Linked DNA regions of Homo sapiens: all the other regions are reported to be linked to region 1. The links are microRNA targets in miRTarBase. Many come from high-throughput screens and were not tested one by one. Region 1 holds a microRNA gene; each other region holds the end of a gene's coding sequence.
The links. The annotated mature microRNA hsa-miR-4488 reads AGGGGGCGGGCUCCGGCG and lies in region 1 at 1,726-1,743, opposite strand. An mRNA with a match to its seed (bases 2 to 7 or 8) in the 3' UTR can be bound and repressed. Matches are read on the target gene's strand: a 7mer-m8 pairs with bases 2 to 8, a 7mer-A1 pairs with bases 2 to 7 and ends in A, and an 8mer does both.

Region 2: miRTarBase lists SIX5 as a target of hsa-miR-4488. Seed matches in the 3' UTR shown: 7mer-A1 at 5,972-5,978.
Region 3: miRTarBase lists TJAP1 as a target of hsa-miR-4488. Seed matches in the 3' UTR shown: 7mer-A1 at 4,732-4,738.

Annotation. Positions count from the first base shown.
Region 1 is chr11:61,503,061-61,510,341 of GRCh38, reverse strand. It overlaps MIR4488 (microRNA 4488), which reads right to left and starts at 1,746; the gene lies at 1,685-1,746. LRRC10B (leucine rich repeat containing 10B) reads right to left here and starts at 1,593. Exons shown (of 1, transcript NM_001145077.2): 1 at 1-1,593. The coding sequence starts at 1,343. The coding sequence ends at 465. LOC105369329 (a long non-coding RNA gene) reads right to left here. Exons shown (of 3, transcript NR_188527.1): 3 at 3,693-4,580.
Region 2 is chr19:45,759,182-45,766,462 of GRCh38, forward strand. SIX5 (SIX homeobox 5) reads right to left here. Exons shown (of 3, transcript NM_175875.5): 2 at 7,169-7,281; 3 at 5,604-6,930. The coding sequence ends at 6,320. It overlaps MEIOSIN (meiosis initiator), which reads left to right. Exons shown (of 15, transcript NM_001310124.2): 11 at 233-309; 12 at 2,498-2,686; 13 at 2,758-3,002; 14 at 4,157-4,246; 15 at 4,790-5,360. The coding sequence ends at 4,937. Among named protein-coding and RNA genes, the nearest start is that of DM1-AS, 5.0 kb to the right of the region's middle. RefSeq lists an enhancer at 4,361-4,915.
Region 3 is chr6:43,503,911-43,511,191 of GRCh38, reverse strand. It overlaps TJAP1 (tight junction associated protein 1), which reads right to left. Exons shown (of 11, transcript NM_001350562.2): 11 at 4,638-6,431. The coding sequence ends at 5,337. LRRC73 (leucine rich repeat containing 73) reads left to right here and starts at 846. Exons shown (of 6, transcript NM_001012974.4): 1 at 846-1,678; 2 at 2,272-2,432; 3 at 2,772-2,894; 4 at 3,266-3,366; 5 at 3,514-3,736; 6 at 3,884-4,224. The coding sequence starts at 1,407. The coding sequence ends at 3,954. RefSeq lists silencers at 689-978, 999-1,268.

The sequences.
Region 1 (7,281 bases):
CGCAAGGGCAGTCCTGCCCCACACAGGCACGCAGTCCATCCCAGAGGTAGCGGCTCCTGTCCTAGAAAGGGTGGGCCTAGGAGACCCAAACCCCAGAAAGAGGGAGGGTGTTGGGTGCCCTGCATCCAGACTCAGGGAGACGTGACAATTCTGTGGCCCTCAGAGACCCTGGTTCCAGGAGGAAGCTGGTGCCTCTGTTATCAGTGGCTCCATCGGGGACTGGACCCAGCCCAGACTTCTTGGTCTGACAATTGCCCACAGATCAGCCAGGGTATAGTCAGTCCTCTTACTACCTAGGAGTGTCTGAAGATGAGCCCCAGCCCTGCCTGTGCCCGGCAACTCGCCAAAAGTAGCCGTTCCATTGACCTAAGTAGGGACCCACCAGTCCCGCAGGCCTAACCAGCCAAAGCTTCCTAGAGCCCCTCCTCTCAGAGTGGCTGAAGCCCATCAGCCAGAACATAGGCTCAGGTGCCCAGTCCTGGAGCGGCTTCCAGGGCGCGGAAGCTGCCCCCGGGGGCGCCCAGAGCCCGGGAACCAGCGCCGCCTATGAGCAGGTCTTCCTCCTCCTCATCCTCAAAGGCCCGCGCTGGGCGCCGGGGCGGAGGCCGGGGCGTGGGCTCGTCGCGCTCCGCCATGCGCTCGACGGCGCCCTCGCCCACGAGGAACACGGTGTCCGCGACGCGCGGGGGCCCGGTGACGGGGTTGTGGTCGTAGGAGAAGACGCGCAGCGCGCGCAGCGGGTGCAGGTCGGGGAAGCCGCCCAGGCGGTTGCGGTCGAGGTCGAGGATGTGCAGGCGGCCCATGCGCAGCAGCGCGGGCGGGAACTCCTCGAAGCGGTTGCCGTAGAGCCAGAGGCCGCGCAAGCCCGTCATGCGCGGCAGCTCGGCCGGCAGCGCGCGCAGCCGGTTGTCGCCCATCTGGAGCGACTGCAGCGCCACCAGGCGCAGCAGCGGCCGCGGGAAGCGCCGCAAGAAGTTGCCCTCGATCCAGAGGCAGCGCAGGCTCTGCAACTGCGCGAAGTCGGCGGGCAGCGCCAGCAGCCGGTTGCCGCCCAGATAGAGGCGCGTGAGGCGCGGCAGGCGGCACAGGCCGTCAGGCAGTCGCTCGAGCTTGTTGAAGTCCAGCGCCAGGATGCGCAGCTCGCGCAGCTCCTCGATCTCCTCCGGCAGCTCGCGCAGCCCCGTGCCGCTCACATACAGCTTCTGCAGGCGGCTCAGCGCGCACACTGCGCTGGGCAGCCGCCGCAACCGCCGCCCGCTCAGCTCCAGCTGCTGGTCGCCGCTGCGCAGCTGCTCCTCTGCGTCCGACGGCAGCTCATCCGGCGTGGACTCGGCGATGCCCATGGTCACGGGCCCCGGCCGGGGCCGCCGCCACTGCCACCGCCAGGCATCGCCCCGCCCCGGCCGCCCCCCAGCCGCCCCGACGGTGCCGGAGCCGCGCCGGCCCCCGGGCCCCCCGCCCCGGCCTTCCCCCGCGCCGGGAGGGGGGCCGTGCGGGGCCGGGAGGAGGCACCCACTTGGGGCACCGCCGCCGCGCGCCGCGCTCCACCGCCCGCCCTCGGGCCTCCCCCGTTGCCTCCGCCGGAGGCCGACTGGCTAGGGTTCGCGCTGACTCGCAGCTTAGCGACCCGTCGCCCTGGCAACCCCGACGCGCGTGCGGCTGCCAATGAGGCGGAGGGAGGGCGGGGCGGGGCGGGGCCAAGGCGCCACCCTAGTGGGGTCCCAGCGCCGGAGCCCGCCCCCTACCTGCCCATCCAGCCCACCGCGGAGCAAGCACAAGCCGAGAGATTCCCCGCCCCGGCCAAGCCTGGCACTGAGACCCGACGCCCGACGCTGTTTGGTGTGCGGTTGTGTGCGCCCCAGAGCCGCGGGTCCAAGAAGGCGAAGGAAACGCTGGCGGTGGATCAAAGACTCTGGACTAGAGGCTCACAAGGAGGGGCTGAGGGGCGCGGTCACTGCGAGCCATTCACGTCCAGCGGCGTGCGGCCGGCCTACCTGCTGGGATCACTTCAGTGTAGTAACTCGAAACAGTGTTACTGTCCGGCCCTTTTCACATCTGCTGGTTTTACCGGGCCCCAGGGCTTGGCTCCGCCCCGCCTAATTGCCCTACAGCTTCCTCATTGCTACACTCACACCCCTCTCTCCTGCCAGGATCCCTCCACCGACGCTCAAAGTCTGTGTGTGGCTGCGGTGGACAGAGGACTGGGACACGTGAACGCCTTTGAGCCACCAATCATGGCCACTCTCATTCCATGACTCTTCTTCCTTCGCCTGCTACCACCAGCAGCAGTTCCCCCCTGCCTTCTCCCCCCACCTCCCATCCGGAGCCCTCCTGCGGGAGCTCCTGGCAGAAAAGCACTGGCTGTCACTGGCTTCGAGCCCACGTGTGCCCAGCACTATGCTGAAAGCATTGCGTTGAGTCCTTGGCACAGCCTATGAGGTAGACACCCTCATCACCCCGATTTTAAAGATGGAGAAACTGAGGGTCAAAGAGACATGACTTGAGCTGGGTCAGTCTGAGCTGAGTGAAGTGCCCAAGGTCACCCAGCTGATGAGCAGCTGGATTCGAAGCCAGGTAGTGTGACTCCAGAGCCTGTGTTCCTAACCATAAACCATACCGATAGATGGAAACAAGGTTCACTCCACCTCCAGCAATGAATTTTCTCACAACAGAGCCTCTGATTCTCTGGACAAAGCTACAAAGACAGCACTATAATCCCACATGAAAGATGAGAGAAGTGGCCTCGCGGGGATTAGGCACCCTGCTTACGGTCACACAATGCATAGAGGTTGCAGCCCGGGAGCCAAATTTTCGGGCTCCAAGCCTCCTGCCTCCTGCCTTCTCTTGAACCCGGCTGGTGTGACCCATGTAACTGGCTGAGTGGACTGACTTCAGGAGAGCACGCTGCCCTTTGGCCCACCCCCATTGCCATCCCCACTGCAGGGGAAGGGGGATGGAAGACAGCCCAAGGGCAGAGAGCAGTTGCCAATGCAACGGGAGGAAGGGAACCATCCCCACTGGAAAGTAAGCTGCCCAGCCAGGGAGGTTTGGGCATCTCCTTCCCTGCTGGCACAGGCTCTAGAGCATACAGTAGACATTCCATGCAAATTTTTATTTATTTATTTATTTATTTATTTATTTATTTATTTATTTAGAGACAGAGTTTTGCTCTTGTTGCATAGGTTGGAGTGCAATGGCGTGATCTTGGCTCACTGCAACCTCCGCCTCGCCTCCTGGGTTCAAGCGATTCTCTTGCCTCAGCCTCCCAAGTAGCTGAGATTACAGGTGCCCACCACCACGCCCAGCTAATTTTTGTATTTTAGAAGAGACAGGGGTTCACCATGTTGGTCAGGCTGGTCTCGAACTCCTGATCTCAGGTGATCCACCTGCCTCAGCCTCCCAAAGTGCTGGAATTATAGGCATGAGCCACTGCGCCTTGCTGAAAAAAACTTAACAAAAAAAGTGGAGGCAAACATTGCATACAGTGAAATGCATAGATCGTAAGTGTCTTCTTGGATGCGTTTTGACAAATGTACACACCCCTGTCCCATTTCCATCAACCCAAGAGTTCTCTCAAGCCTCTTGCGGTCAATCCCCACCTCACAGAGGCAACTATGATCCTGACCTCTATCCTTATGGATCAGTTTTCCCTGTTCTTGAATTTCACACAAATGAAATTATTCAGCACATGCTTTTTTTCAGATAATATATATTTGTTGGATACATGAATGAAAGGACAGAGCAATAGCAATTCTAATATGGCAAGAGGTGTTAGGGGGCGGACAGATGATGGGGGGACACAGAGGCAGATGTTGCTCTGAGCCACGAACCAGCCATGCACCCCCATCCTGGGAGAGACTGGCAAAACGAAAGCAGGAATCCAGGCCAAGGTAGAGGACCCAGGTGGAACCCAGACACCAGACCTAGGGTATAGGAGTCTCAGCCCCAACCGGAGGGGCTTCAGGCTCCTCCCAGATGTCACTTAAGTTCCAATCCAGCTCTCTCCCTTCTACTCATTCGGGAGGACTTCTTGGAAGAGGTAAGTCTCTCAGAGACCAGAAAGGTAGGGAATACCCAGCCAGGCTAATGGGATGAGGATGAGTCCCTCCCCCCACCCCCAAGCAGTTTGAGGGAACATTGGCTGTGGAGGAGGAGGCTCAGCAGCCCAGCCTCGCCACATGCTCAGGCTGGCACCCAGCGCCAGGCTGCCCTCTTGGGCTCCATCAGCACAGGCAGCACCACATGAGCCCACATGAGCCTCTCCACCCCGGCACCAGCCTGGCAGAGCTTCCTGGGGCCGAGAGCATGGAGGACCAGCCCTCTTCTTTCTCAGAGTCTTTTTCTTGCTCTCGGCAGATCCTGTACCTTCACCTCCCACCAGGCCCTTCTCAGTGGGTAAAGGTAAAATGTGCTGGCGTTCCAGGCCCACGCAGGCTGGCAGTGGGGCAATCATCATGATGAATCACGCTGGCACTGCAGGCACCCGGTCCTTGTTGAGGCGTAACTAATGAATTAGCTTCACCCCCAGCACGGGGCCTCTCAGCCTTTCCCCACTTCCCAGGAAGGCAGGAAACTGAGACCTGGGAGGGGGAAGCAGGGGAGGAGAGAGGACTCTGTCAGCTCCAGGCATGGGTCCCAGACCCTGGCCAGCCCCTCTGCCCCCACACACACTGCAAAAACACCCAAAGTGCAGGTCCCCCAGGGCCCCAGAAACTGCCTCTCTGTTACTAATCATGAGCTATAACTATTAGTGCCCACCCCCAACTCTGTATTTTTTAAAGGATTTCTTAAAATATAGGAAAAGTGTGGCGCTGTGATAAACACCCCCATGCCCAGTACCCAGCATTGACAATTGTTCACATTTCATCAAACTTGCTTTAAACCTATTTTCTTTTAAATAAAAGGAAGAAAACGGCACACGTAATATACAAGTCTCCTTTGTCTCCCCTCCAATGTCCCCATAGGCACTACCGCCCCCTCCACACTGACCCTGCCAAAGTCCCCTCTGGATTCCCCTCCCTGCCTTGGGGCCAGGACCCCCCTGGCTGCTGAATAAGATGATGGGATCTTAGCATCCTAGGTTCTTAGAAAACAAGGATTCAAACCTATTAGAGCCAACTATACGATGTCAGAGCTGGAAGGGTGCTTAGCGCCTCTGGGAGGTCACAGGCTCTCTTCAATGTCTGCAAGAAGGTAGGGACCCTTGTTCCAGAAAAATGCATGGAGGCAGAGACTCACCCAATGATGTACGCAATTCCCAGGGGTTCATGGTCTCTTGGGTGTCTAGGCCAACCCATTCATTTGGCAAAAAAGGAAAGCGATGATGTCCTCACCTCATGGCCCACTCCCCTTTCCTGCATCAGCCAGAACTTCAGTTCCTGCCATCTTTCAGGTATTCATTCAACAAACCTTAAGCACCTACTTCTATGCCTAGGCACTGGGGATTACTATGAATGTAAACATAATAGACAAACCCCCTGCCTTTGTGGAACTTATATTCATGCGAGTGGAGATCATCAACAAAACACGTGTCAGGTCATGATCAGGCTACGGAAGAAATAAAGCAGGGAAAAGAAAGGAGGAGGACTGGCCGGGCATGTTGGCTCACACCTGTAATTTCAGTACTTTGGGAGGCCAAGGTAGGTGGATCACTTGAAGCAAGGACTTCAGGACTAACCTGGCCAACATGGTGAAAGTCCATCTCTATTAATAAAAAAATTTTAATTTTAATTTTAATTTTAAAAAAAGAGAGAGGAGGACTGAGAAATGTGTGGGGGGTGGGGAGGGGCTGTCCTTTAAAACTGAGTGGCTAAGGCCGGGCACGATGGCTCATGCCTGTAATCCTAGCACTTTGGGAGGCCGAGGCGGGCAGATCACCTGAGGTCAGGGGGTCGAGGCCAGCCTGACCAACATGGTGAAACTCTGTCTCTACTAAAAGTACAAAAATTAGCCAGGGTGGTGGTGGGTGCCTGTAATCCCAGCTACTTGGGAGGCTGAGGCAGGAGAATTGCTTGAACCCGGGAGGCAGAGGTTGCAGTGAGCTGAGATTGCCCGTTGCACTCCAGCCTGGGCAACAGATCTGGACTCTGTCTAAAAAAAAAAAACAAAAAAACATCTGAGTGGCCAAAGGAGGTCTCATTGAGACCATGGCATTGAGCAAAGATGGCAGGGTACACTCCTGGCAGTGGAGATGGCAGTGCCAAGCCCCTAGGGCAAGAGTATGCCTGGGACTTTGGGAGCAGCAAGGGGCCCAGCCCAGGGAGCAAGGGGAAGCATGGTGGTCCAGGAGATCAGAGACAGAAAGTAAGGACTGGGCAGGCCGAGGAGGGCCCCTGTCCTTCATGAGGACTTTGGCTTTGACTCTAGGTGACAGGTCATCCGGGAATTTTGCACAGAGGACACATGTTTTAACAGGATCCCTTTGGCTATGGCTGCAGGATATGGGGGGGTATGTGTGTGTGTGTGCACGCACACGTGTGTGCATGCGTGTACGTGTGTGCGTGCATGCGTGCATGCATGTGTATGTGTGTGTGTTGGGGAAAGGGTTTTGTGCAACTTTAACCTCTCTCCTCTTGGTTCTCTCCCACAGGATAATGCTAGCTGTCGTTTACTCAGCACATACAGGTTGTCAAATTTATTCTTCACAACAGCTCTGCCGAGCAGGTACTATACTCTCCACCACCCTCTGGCTCTACAGATGAAGAAACAGATTAGATTCAGAGAGGTTAAGTAGTTTGAGTTTCAGTGTGGTTAAACAGCCACTGCCAAGCTACAAGGTCACACAGCCGGTAAGGGGCGGAGCCAGGATTCAAACCCAGTCCATCTTATTGCAAAGCCCGGGCTTTGTCGACGATGTCTCATTGACTCTGTGGTCTAGGAGAAATTAGAGAAACCACCCTGGGTGCTCAAACGCTCACCTCCATCCTGCAAACAGCAAAAATATTTCTAGGGGTGCCCTGCTTGGAGGTTTTGATGTTGTCAGAGAGGACAAGAGTGGCTATGAGCCACACCACTTCCCCTTTCCCATCCCAGGCCCCAGGGCTCATATGTTTGCCTAACTAGGGGGTATCCTGAAATCCACAGGGCAAGCCTAGGAACCCCAAATCAGGTCCCACAAGACAGAACAAAGAGGTCCCCAGGTCCTGGGTCATCCTAGGCCTGTGATCTGGGCTCAGGGCTTATATGATACCAAATTCCAGGCAGTCTCTGGCCCACCGTTAGACTAGAGCCCATCAGTGATAGCCAAACTCACCAGGCTGGCTCAGCCACTGCCAACCTACT
Region 2 (7,281 bases), not on the chromosome of region 1:
CTGGTGTGGTGCATGGGTGGCTTTAGAAGCCCATAGCAGGACTTGAGCTCACTCTGTGTGTTGGAGGTGACCCAGGGGAGTGGGCTGTGAGCGGGATTTGGACCTAGGGTGGGAGATCCTGAAGGAGAACGCCAGAGACGGGGACTCCGGCTAGCAGGGACGGTGTGGCTGAAGCTGGGCGGTGTGGGAGAAGCATTTCCACTCTGGCTGCCCCTCTGGTCTCCCTCCCTAGCGGCTTTCTTTGAAGAAGTGTGCTTAGATCTGGAGTCTTCACCTTCAGCCTACACGCAGGAGGCTCCACAGGAAAAGGTAGACATCCTCTGCCCCTCTGTCCACAGACACATCCATCCGTCTTTCCACACACGTCACTCATGGCTTCATTCACTCATCCACTCCCTCACCCTTTCAGCCACCATCTACCCATCTGTCCTTCCACTCATGCGTCTCCTCATCCTTAAAACCGCCCCCCGACCCTCTCTGCGCTCACTGGTGGCCACCAGATGCCGGCTCTGTGCTGGGCACGTGGAACGAATTGGACAAAATGGATAAAAAAGGATAAAAGCTGCCAGGTGCCCATAGAAAAGAAAACTCACATCATTTTATTCATTTATTTTATTTTATTTTATTTTATTTTATTTAGACTGAGTTTCCCTGTTGTCGCCCAGGCTGGGGTGCAGTGGTGCGATCTCGGCTCACTGTAACCTCCGCCTCCCGGGTTCAAACAATTCTCCTGCCTCAGCCCCCCTAGTAGCTGGGATTACAGGTGCCTGTCACCACACCCGGCTAATTGTGTATTTTTAGTAGAGATGGGGGTTCACCATGTTGGCCAGGCTGGTCTCCAACTCCTGACCTCGAGTGATCCGCCCACCTTGGCCTCCTAGAGTGCTGGGATTACAGGTGTGAGCCACCGTGCCCAGCTTCCCACATCATTTTACAACTACTCTACGAAGCAGGGTCTCCTGTGGCCCCATTTTACAGATAAGGAAATTGAAATCAAAAGACTAAGCTGGGCGCGGTGGCTCACACCTGTAATCTCAGCAGTTTGAGAGGCTGACGTAGGCGGATCACCTGAGATCAGGAGTTCAAGACCAGCCTGGCCAACATGGGGAAACCCCATTTCTACTAAAAATACAAGAAGTGTCCGGGCGTGGTGGCTCACGCCTGTAATCCCACTATTTTGGGAGGCCGAGGAGGGCAGATCACCTGAGGTCAGGAGTTGGAGACCAACCAGTCTGGCCATCATGGCGAAATACTATCTCTACTAAAAATACAAAATTAGCCGGGTGTGGTGGTACGTGCCTGTAATCCCAGCTACTCAGGAGGCTGAGGCAGAAGAATCGCTTAAACCTGGGAGGCGGGGGTTGCAGTAAGCCAAGATGGCACCGTTGGACTGCAGCCTGGGCAACAAGAGCGAAACCCAGTCTCAAAAAAGGAAAAGAAAAAGAAAAAGAAATTATCAGGGTGTGGCCGGGCGTGGTGGCTCATGCCTATACTTCTAGCACTTTGGGAGGCTGAGGCGGGCAGATCACCTGAGGTCAGGAGTTTAAACCTAGCTTGACCAATATGATGAAACCCCCTCTCTACTAAAAATACAAAATTAGCTGGGCGTGGTGGTGGGCACTTGTAACCCCAGTTACTCAGGAGTCTGAGGCAGGAGAATCACTTGAACCCAAGAGGTGGAGAATGGAGCTGAGATGGTGCCATTGCACTCCAGCCTGAGGGACAAGAGTAAGACTCCGTCTCAAAAAAAAAAAAAAGAAAGAAAAGAAAAAAAAGAAAAGAAAGGAAGAAAGAAAGAAAGACAGGGTCTTGCTTTGTTGCCCAGGCTGGAGTGCAGTGTCACCATCATAGATCAGTGCCTTGAACTCCTGGGCTCAAATGACCCTCCCACACCACCATGCCCAGCTGGTTTTTTAAATTATTTTTAAATTTAACTTAATTCAATTTCTTTTTTTTTTTTTGAGACAGAGTCTCACTCTGTCACCCAGGCTGGAGTGCAGTGGTACGATCTCGGCTCACTGCAACCTCCGCCTCCTGGATTTAAGCGATTCTTGTGCCTCAGCCTCCAGAGTAGCTGGGACTACAGGCGCCCACCAACATACCTGGCTAATTTTTTAGTATTTTTAGACAGAGTTTCGCCATGTTGGCCAGGCTGGTTTTGAACTCCTGACCTCAGGTGATCCTCCTGCCTCAGCCTCCGAAAGTGCTGAGATTACAGGCATGAGCCACTGCGCCTGGCCTATTTTTTTTTTTTTTTTTTTTTTTTTTTTGTAGAACAAGGTCTCTCTATGTTGCCCAGGCTGGTCTGTAACTCCTGGCCTCAAGCAGTCCTCCTGCCTCAGCCTCCCAGAGTGTTGGGGTTACAGGCGTAAGCCACCACACCCTGCCAATCTGAGCTGCTGCTAATGCTCATGTTATGTCCTAGAAAAGCAGTACTGGGGGGATGAAGGGGCACCACTTGTCTCCCCTCCCATCTTTCTCCCTCATCATGCCCCAGGACACAGCCTCCAAGGCCCCCAAAGACCCTCCTGAGTCCCACAGCCTGCACCGGTCCTCAGTCTCGCTGGACCACTGCTACCTCTCGCTGAGCGGGAACAGCAAGGCGCCATCCAGCTCCAGCTCCAGCTCCAGCTCCAGCTCCAGCTCGGAGGACAGCGACTCGGAGCCCCTGTGGAAGCAGCGAGAGGTGAGAGACACGGCCGCATGCCAGGGCCAGCAGGGCCTCCTTCCTCTCTCACCACCCTCTCCCTCCCCCAGGATATGCAGGCCAACCCTGTGGGCACGCCGGGCTCCAGCGAAGAGGACGAAGACACCACATGGACCCCCACCCGGCTGGCCTCACCCCTGCTGGCAGCTGAGAAAAAGGCCACGAAGGGCCAAGTAGCCAGGGCCCCTGTGAAGCCCAAGGAGAAGAAGAAAGGCCCCTGCCCACCCCAGATGAAGAAGAAGTGTGTCAACGGCTTCATCATGTTCTGCAGGATGAACCGGAAGCAGTACATCCGGTGGGTAGGGGGTCGTCTTTGGCCCTGGGGAAGGCCCTGGCTTCGTTCTCTGCCCGCAGCCTGGCCATGCCGCTCCTCACAACTGTCTGACACTTTTTCCCCCTCCGAGACCCCACAAACCCTTCGTGGACCACAGTTCTTCCCCAGAACTGAACCCGGCCCCATTGTATTGGACAGGGTCCATCCATTGTCAGCGCTGAAACCCAATTCAGGCTTTAGACTTCAGAAAAAAAGGAGTTTTTTTTGTTTTGTTTTGTTTTTTGAGACAGAGTCTCACTCTATTGCCCAGGCTGTAGTGCAGTGGCACAATCACAGCTCACTGCAATGTCTGCCTCCCGGGCTCAAATCACTGCAACCTCTGCCTCTCAGATTCTCCTGCCTCAGCCTCCTGAGTAGCTGGGATAACAGGCGCGCCATCAGCTAATTTTTGTATTTTTAGTAGAGACAGGGTTTCACCATGTTGGCCAGGCTGGTCTCGAATGCCTCACCTCAAGTGATCTGCCTGCCTCGGCCTCTCAAATTGCTGGGATTACAGGTGTGAGCCATCAGGCCCAGCAAGAAAAGAAAATGAATTGGCTTATATAACCTAGAAAACAAGGGCGGGTATAGACTGCCTTGAGACATAGCTGGTTTTAGGGCTCACACAGGCTGTCTGGAATCTTTGTCCTTTTCACCCAGTTCCTCTGTCTTCCGGGCTGGCTTCATTCTCTGGCAGGTGGGGTCACCCCAGGAGGCACAGGCTCGGGTCCTGTCCCCCACCCAAGCGACCCCGGGAGGAGGAGAGGTCTCTAAGGTTTTAAGCAAAGTCCTTGGGACTGACTTTGGTAGATCCGGTGCCAACCCTGAACCAGTCACTGCCAGGCCTGGAGCCAGGGGATGGGGAGGCCCCCCCCAAGCCACAGTGGAAAACAGCTAGTTCCTTTACAGGAAGATCCAGATGTGGGGGCCAGGAGCGGTGCCCACAGGTCCCCTGCACTCTCCTGGGACACCAGGTGCCCCCTTGTGAACAGCCGCTGAGTCCAGCTCCCTCTGCCTCCTCAGCTCCAGAGGGTGGTCTTGGAGGCCTTGTAGACCCACAAGGCTAGGAAGGGTCTGAGTTCTCAGTCAGGGTGTCCTGCAGACCTCTCCTTACCTCCTCCTCCTTCCTGTCCCAGATCCTGCCCTGGAACCGCTTCCACAGCTGCCACCAAGGAGCTGGCCCAGCTGTGGCGGGTGATGACCCAGCAGGAGCGGAGGCCATACTGGTGAGAGGCTCCGGCCCCGAGGTGTGGGTGGGGGGTGGAAGAGCCTCCCTACCCCGGAACCCTGCTCTGTCTCTGGAGCCTTGGGTGTCATGGCATGGGAGACTGGGCCGAGGAATTTGCGTGTTGCCCCTTCTTATGAAACCCTTGGGGGTGACACAGGTGTAGGGGTACCCCACCACAGCTAAGCTGGGGAACAGCTGAGCCCAGACATGGACCCCTGCCTCAATTCTTTTGCTGTCTCTGCCACACGACTTTCTCGGGGCGTGGTCTGATTTTCCTGTCGCTTGGCCACCTCGACTCCCCCGAATCCTGTCCCCTCCACCTTCAAGGAGCTGCCACCTGCCCTGGCTCCTGACTTTGAACACATCCCAGAGCCCTTGGCCGAGTCCCATCTTACTGACTGGGACTTGGTGGACCCAAGGCTCGCCCAATAGAGGCTAAAACGGTGGCCCAGGCCCCTGCGGGGACACAGGATTGGGAGTGGTACAGGGATGCCCGGGAGGCGAGTGAGGAAGCCAGGCCATCCTGCCACCGTCTCCCCAGCACCAAGGCTCGCAGGTTCAGCCGCCAGCACAACCGCATCGTGAAGCAGGACGGCTCCAGCAGCGAGGCTGAGGACTGGGAGACGCCAAAGCCCTTCTACCAGCTGCTGGCCGAGAAGGCCTTGCCGCTGCCCCCGCACCTCCAGTGAGAGGGCGGCCCCTCGCCTCGCTCCCCTCACCCCTCATGGCAACCGCGGCTCTTGCTGGAAGCCAGGACCCATCGATGAACTTGTCCCTCCTGGGCCTCCAGCCCCTGAGAATGCAGGTCCCATGGGACTGGGGAGGGGGGCACTGATTAGCCCCAACCGCTGGGCACATTTGCCTGGAGCACCAGAGTCACCCACAGCTGCCTTGATTCTCCCCCAGGCTTAGGAAGGAAACCCAAAATGAAATGCGGGGTGTCGGAAGGTGAAGTTTACCCACCCCTCTCCCCTTCCCTTCCCCACCCCAGAGCCACTCGGTTGCAACCCTGTTCATGCTCACCTCACCCTACTCCTCCCTCTCCTGTTCTATTTTTAGACTATTTATTGTTTTAAATAAAATAAAGCAAGTGGAACCTTTGTTACCAGCAAGAGAGACAAGGGCAGGCCCTCCTGCGTCCCCCTGCTGCCCCACTGGGGTGCTCCGTCCACCCTCATCTGGAGGCCTGTGGCTTGCAAGAGGCCTCAGTGCCACCCCCTCCCCAGCCACTCTGTGCATCTGAATGCAAACCCCTCTTCCCCTCGGGAGGCAGCAATGGGAAGGCCAGGTCTCGAGGTGGGCTCTGTGTTCAGCGCTGCTTTGGACAGACACTGGAAGGCACCCCAGACCCCTGGTGGTGGTGTAATCCGATAACTTTATTTTAATTGAAAATGGAGGCATAACATGTCCTAGAAAAATAAAGATTTAGGATACAAAGGAGACACAGCGGCAGGGCTGCCCCCAGGGATGAGGGAATCTTTGGTCTGGGCCGGATAATGAGGACAAGGGCTTGAGTCGAGGGGAGCTGGTGAAGGAAGACCCCCGTCTCCCCACAGCTGCCCCACCCCCCGCCCCTGGCAGGAAATGCCACACTGGGGAGGGTCTCCAGTCTCAGGGGCGCGGGGCTGCCTGTCCTCCACCTTCGGATTCCAGGCAGTTGTGACAACACCAGCTATCGGCAGAGCTATTAATAGTGTTTCAGGGAGTGACAGGGAGAGGGCTCTGGGGGCTGGAAGTCCGGCCCTGGGGCAGGGTGTTCCGCTTACAGCTAGTACCAAGTGGAGGGGGCAGGGCCCCTGAGTCAGGACCCTGAGTCCCCCACGTATATGGCAGGGCACAGCATGGGGAGGGCTGTAACAGAGAGGCCTCCCATCCAAAGGGGGATGGAGACCTGGACAGGAGGTGGCCGGGGATACAACCCCCAGCACCACCAGGGCTTGGAGAGGCCACCCAGGCAGAAGGATGTGGTGACTGGGGTCTTCAGCAACCGCATTTCTGGGGCTCCCCCCTCCCATTCCTGTCCCTGCGTCTTCAGCACCAATGTCGGGAGAGGCCACGGGGCCACACTGGGTCACAGTTCCAAGGGCTCCTCCACAGGCACCGACTGGAGCTGGGTCAGAACCTTGGCCTCAGCTTCCAACCCCTCGTCAACCTCACCCCCTGCGGTGGCCCCCAGGAGCAGCCCCTCAGGGTCGGGGTCTGGCAGCCTCAGCACGGTGTGGGGGGCCTGTGTCCCCAGCCCCTTTTCCGCTTCCAGCAGCCCCTCTGTTCCTGCGCTTAGTTCCAGCCCTGCTGACCAGACAGGCACGGCCGCGGGTGACAACATCAGCCCCTCTGGTGGGGGCGCCGGGAAGTTGGGCAGGAGGCCAGGGGAGTCAGGGGAGAAGGGCAGGCTGGTGCTGGAGGTGGTGGCAGCGGCGGGGGGTGGCTGCTGTGCAGAAAGGGTGCCTAGGGCGTGAGCCTCTGGGAGAGCAGGGCTGGGGGCCACCGGGAGGCCTCCCTCAGGCACGGAGATGGCCGTCTCTGGCTTCAGTGGCAGGGCCAGGCCGGGGGCTGGCGGCAGGACCTGGGAGACGAGCATGCTGGTGGGGAAGGTGGCGGTGAGGATGATCTTGCCCTGCTGCAGGGCCACACCCGTCACGATGGGGCTGCCAGACACAGGGTTGGCCAGGAGGAAGTTTCCTGTGGGGAGAGAGGGACCGAGCGCAGGTGAGAGCCAGGAGAGCAGGCCAAGCCAGAGAGAAGTGGAGACTGTGCAGCTGGAGGGCGGGCGGAGGGAGCCTTGTGGTGGGCCTTGGGGCACTGGGACTTGCCAGGGATGAGATGCCCTCCAGGAGCCCAGGGACAGCCCCTCCCTCTCCGAGATGACTGCACCCCTCCCCGGCTCTCACCTAGGCCTGAGGGAGGGAGATGGGGGTACCTGGGGCAGTGGCCGAAGGCAGCTGCAGGGCAGTCACGCCCACCCCGGAGTTGATGAGGTGCACATTGGCAGGGCCTGCTGCAGCTGCCACCTTCACAGGGCTGCCTGGCCCG
Region 3 (7,281 bases), not on the chromosome of region 1:
CTCCTAACAAAGGGACAAACAGAGGTGCCCTTCATTTGTCCTGCGTTACACAAGTGAGTCCCCCACCACCCTGGCCAGAGGACAAAGTTGAGACAGCACCGCCTGCACCGTGCAGTGTGGCTCAGCCGCCTTCACGTCCTCACCAGTGCTCCAGGGCCCTGGCCCTGGCACCTTCTTTGTATTGGCTGCCCCAGTCTCGCGGCACGGACACACCCTCAGATGTCAACAGTGCCCTGCGTACCTGAGAAGGTGTGGCACCAGGACCTTGCATCTATCTGAGGCTCCCCTGCCCTAGGGACCCTATGGGGTACCCTTCTCCCCAGCAGCTCAAGCTGGCTCTGCCCAGCCGTGGCCCCTGGGGCCTCCCTGATGAGGCCGCCATCTTGGCGAGGAGCAAGCGGGGAAGTCCCCATGGGCCGGGATCACCACGCACGCTGCGCCTCGAGTCACGGGGGCGGGAGCGAGGCGCGGCGCGGATGAAAGGGCCCTGGGGCCTTCCAAATAGGAGGGAACAGTGCCCTGGATTCCGGCGGGGGTATGGACCTTAGGAACGGGGAAGGATGGAAGAATGGGCAGAAGCAGCAGTAACCGTGCCCAACGCCATCTCCACGGGGCGTGCCTCCATTCCGCTCCCCGTCAGCCCTACCCACTCAGCCCTGCCGCCTGCCGCCTGCCAGTTGGCTGACCCCACTCCCAAGGGAAGAGCGGCCTATCGCTCCCAGCTCCTTGCCCCGAACCACCCAGTGTACGCGAACCTCGCGGGCCGGCGTGGCCTTGGCCGGGCAGGGGGCGGGGCGAGCGCCGGTGACGCGGCCGTTGCCATGGGAACTCGCCGCCCGCTCGCTCTCTGGAGCTGGAGCCGGAGCTGCCGCCAGCCGCCCGCCTCAGGCTCTCTCTGCCAGCCGTGCGGCCAGGCCCGCGGGGTGGTCGGGGGGAGCCGGGCGGCAGAGAAGGAGGGAGCGGGTACGGCCTCCTAGCCGAGACCGGTAAGCCGAAGCCCTTGAGCCGCTCGCTGCCGCTGCCGCCGCCGCCGCCGCGACCGCGAGGGACAAGGACAAGCGCCGAGCAGCGCCTGCCCAACCCCCGGAACGCGCACCCGCCCCAACGCCCAGACACGGACCGTGCGGGCCGCCCCCGCCCCAGCGCCGCCCCACTTCAGCCCGGCCCGCGCCCTGGACGCCTCCGCACCTCTGGCCGGCTCCGGCTCAGTCCCGGTAGCTCTTCTCCGCCCCCGCCGCAGCCTCCGCCGCAGCCGCAGCCTCCGCCACAGCCGCCGCCTCCACCCCCGGCCCCACTCCGCCCGCGACCCCTGCCGGGGCCCCGACCCCGGCCCTATCCCCGGCCCCGCCCGCGGCCCCACCAACCTCCGTTCCGGCCCCGTACCCGGAGGCCCAGCCGTGGGCACGATGCTGCCCAGCTCCATCCAGATTTCGGGGGAGCCGCTGTCCGGCGCCGAGGTGCGGGACATCTGCCGCGGCCTTCGCGACAACGCCGTGCGCCTGCTCTCACTGCGCGGCTGCCGCCTCTGCGACCGCGACTTTGGCCGCATCTGCCGGGCCCTGGCCGGGGCCACGTCCCTGGCGCAGCTCAACCTTAACCTGGGCGTCGTGTCCAGCCCCAGCCGCATCAAGCAGCTGGCTGAGGCTCTGCGGACCAACCGCTCCATCCAGTCCCTCTTGTGAGTGCGCCCCCTCGCAAGGGGGTCCCGGGCACTGCACCCTTCCATACACTCCCCTGGCACCTCCTGTTCCTCCACACTCCTTCCAGTACCATCCTACCTTCACATGCCTTATGCACATACACCGTGCCTCGGCCCATGCCTTCACAGCACCCTCCAAGCACATGCTTGGACTTTGCACGCGCGACCCTAGCCGTGTTGGGATACCCACCAGTTCCTGACATGAGGTGGGGGCCGTACCTCCCCACCTAATCATCTGCATTTACTTCACTGGGGCAGCTCCTTGGTTCCCAAGGGGGAATATCCCCGTGGGGACGAGAGCCCTGCCCACTGCAGAGTTCCGGTCCACCACCCACCCACCCCTTCTCTGCCCCTCCCTGTGCAATGTCCTGGATCCCTGCCCCAGAAAACAAACCGAATTCTCCCTCTATCTGTATTCCCTGAGAATCTAGAACTTTCCTTCTCCTTTTCCAGGCCTCTCAAGCGCTGTGACTGCCCTCCCCATACCTAGGGCTGACAGAAGTGAAAGTGCCCCTTTCCCATGTAGATAGTGCGGAGGACTGCAGTAACCCTGCTCTCTCACTCTCCTCCAGCCTGCATGGGAGCCCCCTGACAGATGCGGGGCTGGCCTTGCTGAACCCAGCCCTGGCCCTCCACCCTGCCCTCGTGGCTCTGGACCTGGGGGACTGCATGCTGGGTGATGAAGCCATCAACCTCATCTGTGGCCTCCTGCCCCCAGATGGGGCCAAATCTGGTGAGCAGGACCCTGTTGAGGGCTTGGGCTAGTGTGGCAGTGATGAAAATCGAAATGCAGAGGGAAGGGGGTGTGGCCCCAGAGCTCTGATGATGTGGGCGAGAACATCTTTCTACTCCTCTCAGGAAGGGGCAGGACGGGGGGCAGCATGGAGACTCAGGAATCCAGGCTGGGGCAGGCAGAGGAAGCATGGGCCTCCTTAATGGCTCTTGACCTCTATGGTGGGGGTAAGGTGGTGCCCAGCCACTAGGGACACCCCAGAGACACAGGGATTGTGGGGAAGGGCTGGAGGAGGGCTTAACCCTCCCTATTCTGGTTTCTTGCTATGATGCTGCCCAGGCTTGAAGGAGCTAACGCTGAGTGCCAACCCTGGCATCACCCCTAAGGGCTGGAGCCGCCTTGCCATTGCCGTGGCCCACAGCTCCCAGGTCCGCGTCCTCAATCTGGATTACAACCCCCTGGGTGAGGCTCAAGAATACCCCCTTGGGCTGTCACTGCCTCATGCCCTATCCAAGAGCCTGGGACCATCAGTTGACATGGTAACCCGTACACTGGGAGAGGGAAGAGAAACGGGAGCCCCCAGGGGTCAAGGAGATAGCTTTGTGGCGGACCAGGTGACCAACAAATAGATCAAAACATCAGTCACCACCCGTGGGCCTAACTTGCTTCGTGCCTTCACTCACCAATCACAATGATCCCTTCCTGACCACCACCAATTGTCCATGTTTCCTTGGCCAGGGATTAGTATCTAAAGTTGTTAAGGCAATGGGGAAGCTATCTGTAAGGATTAGCAGGCATGTGTATGAATGTGTGCACGTGTGTTGTCTCCCCAGGTGACCATGTGGCAGGAATGCTGGCTGTAGCTGTGGCCTCTAGTCGTACCCTAGAGGTCCTAGACTTGGAGGGCACAGGGCTCACCAACCAGTCAGCTCAGGTGGGAAGTCGTCATGTTTGGGCACGGCCAGGGGATGGGGTGGAGGTTAGTTTATGTGTCTGATGACATACCTAAGGCATGGCAGGTTGAGGTCTGAGGACCTGCCTTAACTGTGTTCATCCTTTTCCATATTCTTCCCCACTTCAGACCCTGCTGGACATGGTAGAAAATTACCCCACAGCTTTGCGGAGCCTGGTGTTGGCTGAGAACAGCATTAGCCCAGAGCTGCAGCAACAGATCTGTGACCTCCTCTCTGAGGGAGAGGAGGAGGAGGAAGTGGCAGGAGGGGCTGGCGACACCCAGGAATGGGAGAGAGGGCGGGAGCCTGCTGCCCACCAGAGAGGCAGCAGCTCCTGGATGTGCCCCAGCGGTAAGAACCCAGAGGGTTGATCAGAGCCAGGTCTGGAAGAGGCTCGGGACAAGGGAGAGTGGGTGTGCAGAACCTAGGCTCTCACCTATCTGTGGTCCCCATTGGAGGAAGGAATGGTGGTCTGAACACTTCTCTGCCCTTCCACAGATCCCAGCTCTCAGATGGTGCTAATGACGTCAGGACTAGGGGACAGTCTGTTGGCTGAGACCGAGATGTGACTCTCCACTGGGCCTCTGCACACCATTTCACTTATCTATGTCCCGAGCACCTTGCCCCAGATATCAGGGTCAGGCCCTGGGACTTGGGAGGGAACTGGGGTCAGGGGCTGCATGGGGGCTCTGGCAGCTCCTGGCAGTGTGGTGGGAAGGAAGCTCTGGAAGCTGTGACTGAGCAACAGCCTTGGGGGGCACTTGAACCCACGGCAATGCCTTTGAACTTGGCAGCTCTGGCTGCAACCCGCTGGCTCGGAAAAGATTTTATGAACTCCACAACCTGTCGTGTGGCTGTAGTCACTTGGGGCCGGCAGTAGGGGAGGAATTGGAACTACCAGTAAGCACCACTAGGGGGCAGTAGCATCGCACAGCCCAAGCTCTAAGCTGCGTGACCTGGTCCAGGATCTCAAAATAGGCCTGGCCAGGCCTAGAACCCAGGCCTCTGAGGCAACACCTTACACTAGCCCCATAAAGATATGGTCCCTGCCTCCGAGGGAAGACTCAGGAACCCTGCTAAGGTTACTTAAGGTGCCCCCTTTCCCGCTCCCTGATGCTCTGTGCCTAGGGAAACCCTAGGCAGAGTGGGGCGAGGGGGAGTCACTAGCCGACTAGGATGAGACTAGGACTGGGAATACTTATGAATGGGGAGAAAAGTGGGAGAGGGGAGGTCATTAAGACAAGTTAGGCCATACCAGTAAAATAGTTTTATTTGATTTTAAAATAGTCATCAATGTGAAAATTTCTCAAAGCTTAAGAGTAACAGTCTAGAGCCAAGGTTGGGAGTGGGGGCCAGGCCTCACACAGAGCCCAGCTTGAGGCCCCTGAGCCCCACCCTCCTTTCCAGAGGGAGGGAGGAGACAGCTGAGGGGGCCCTGAATCAGTCCTCTCCCTCGTCCCCAAGGCCAGCTGTGCCAGGCCCCTGGAGGGCAACAGCTCATGCGGAGGACTGGGGGGGGAAGCAAACAGGTAGGAAACGGAAATGAGGTTAACAATTACACCATCACCCCCAAAAAAAAACAAAATAACAAAACTTGTGACTATGAAAGGATGGAAGATGAATACTGATAAACTCCTCAGCTCCCCAGAAAAGCCCAGTCTGGGCTGGGTTGGGCTGATTGGAGGAAAGGTCTTGAGACCCAACTGCATGTTACCTCTGAAGAATAAATATTCTAAGAAAAAGGGAAAACCATGAGGCAAGCTGCTGCAGTCAGTCAACGCAGCTGACAGGCCTGGCATGGCCCACAACCTGACCCCATCCACACAGGAAACAGCTGTGCGGGTCTGGATAGAGGAGAGGTCAAGGGCTTGGACTGGGGACCCTGAGCTGCCAAGGTGTGGGGACTCCTTGCAGTCCTGGTGCAGCAATGGCAGGAAGGCCAGCAGGGGCCCTAGTTGAGCAGGTTGCCCTGCTCCTGGGCCTGGGTCAGGCTGTCCTTGCGGTGCAGGTGGTGAACCCCCATCCTCTTGGGGCTGCGCTGGGGGCGACTGGAGCTGGGGAGTGGCCAGGCCCTGCCCTCGGTGTGGGAAGTGCCTGGCCCCTCCTCTGTGCCCCTGTTAATGGGCAGCAGGCTCTGGCGCTCTTCCTCAGGACTGATAGGCAGGTTCAGCTCTTCTTCCTCCCTGGGAAAGCCAGAGTCAGGTTCTGTGGGTAGCAAAAGCTCACTCTCTTCGGGTCGGGCAGAAGGTGCCTGGACCACCTCATCTCTGTCAGCGGGGCTATGGGCAAAATGGCGCTGCAGCTCAGGGAGGGCATCGCGTCCAAAGGCTGTGCGCTGGGCCACAGCAGCAGGTGGTGGAGTACGGTCCACAAATGCCCGCTGCCAGCTGACCAGCAGGTCCTCTTCAGAGCTGGCAGAGCTAGCTGGGGCACTGAGTGTTAGGGGTGCTGGGCTGGGCTGGTGGTGGGGTGAGGCCTGGGCTGAGGCAGGGGTGCTGGGCACTGGGCTGGGGCGGGCCCGCTCACTCCCCTCCTCTACCAGGCTCAGGGAAATGGCCTGGCGGGTAGCGTAAGTGCAGTTGGGCAGGGGGCTGTTGCGGGGGATCCGAACCTTATCCTCAGAGAACTCTATTACCCTGCGGCCAGGATACAGTGGGTGTGGTGGAGACGGGGTTGGGTAGGGGTTCAGCTTCTCAAAGGCTGGCAGGGGCAGCTCTTCCTCCGGGGAGCCCCTGGCAGTACCCAGAGAGTGGCACTCCCCATTGGGTTGTGGGGTGGGGCTGCCAGGGGCCGGGGGACTGGCTGGATCACCTGGGACACCCTCACTCATGTCCACATGCACAAAGACATCCTCAGCCAAGGGGCGCCCGGCGCTGCCTGACTGGGCTGAATTGAGCAGTAGAGACTCCGGCTTCTCTAACACTCGGGCAATGACTGAGGTAGGCACCACAGCCCCTGGGGCTAGGCTGGGAGCAGGACCTGGGCTGGCGGCCTCTTGACCACTGTGCAAATGTTTCCGAACCATGTCCTGTAGCTCACAGGGCAGCTGAGGTAAAAGAGCAGGAAAGAGAGACATCAATGATCGCAGCCAAAGATAACTTGACTCATGGCGAAAGTAATGGCTCCCACCTTTAAGTACCTCTGTGTACTCAGCACTCTGCTATCTCCTGTTCTTACAGCATGCCAGTGTGTATACCCTCACTTCACAGACACATAGGCCTGGAGAGGGGAAGACAACTCAAAGCTTTGGTTAACTTGGCCAAGATTTAAACCCGGATCTGCTGCTGCAGCCAGCATGTTCTCAAACTTCTATCTCCCAGCTTCTGCCCAAACCATACTTAAGTTTGGAGAATCTGCATAGACCAGTAGCCTTAGAAATACCTCTACTTCTGGGCCGGGCACAGTGGCTCATGCCTGTAATCCCAGCACTTTGGGAGGCCGAGGCGGGTGGATCACGAGGTCAGGAGATCGAGACCATCCTGGCTAACACGATGAAACCCCATCTCTACTAAAAAGACAAAAAAATTAGCCAGGCGTGGTGGTGGGCGCCTATAATTCCAGCTACTTGGGAGGCTGAAGCAGGAGAATTGCTTGAAGCCGGGAGGCGGAGGTTGCAGTGAGCCGAGATTGTGCCACTGCACTCCAGCCTAGGTGACAGAGCAAGACTCCGTCTCAAAAAAAAAAAAAAAAAGAAATACCTCTACTTCTTCTACTTCTGCAGGCCACATAAACCTTGGGCCTGAAGCTGTGGGGTCTAGAGTTTACCCCTTGGGGTAACATGATCAGATGGGCCTAATCCTCTCTTAGTACTCTTTGGGCAGATAGCTCTGACTACCCTCTCCTTCCTGCCCAGGATCTTCTCTCTCTGTCTCTGTTACAGAAACCAACAGGGCTGG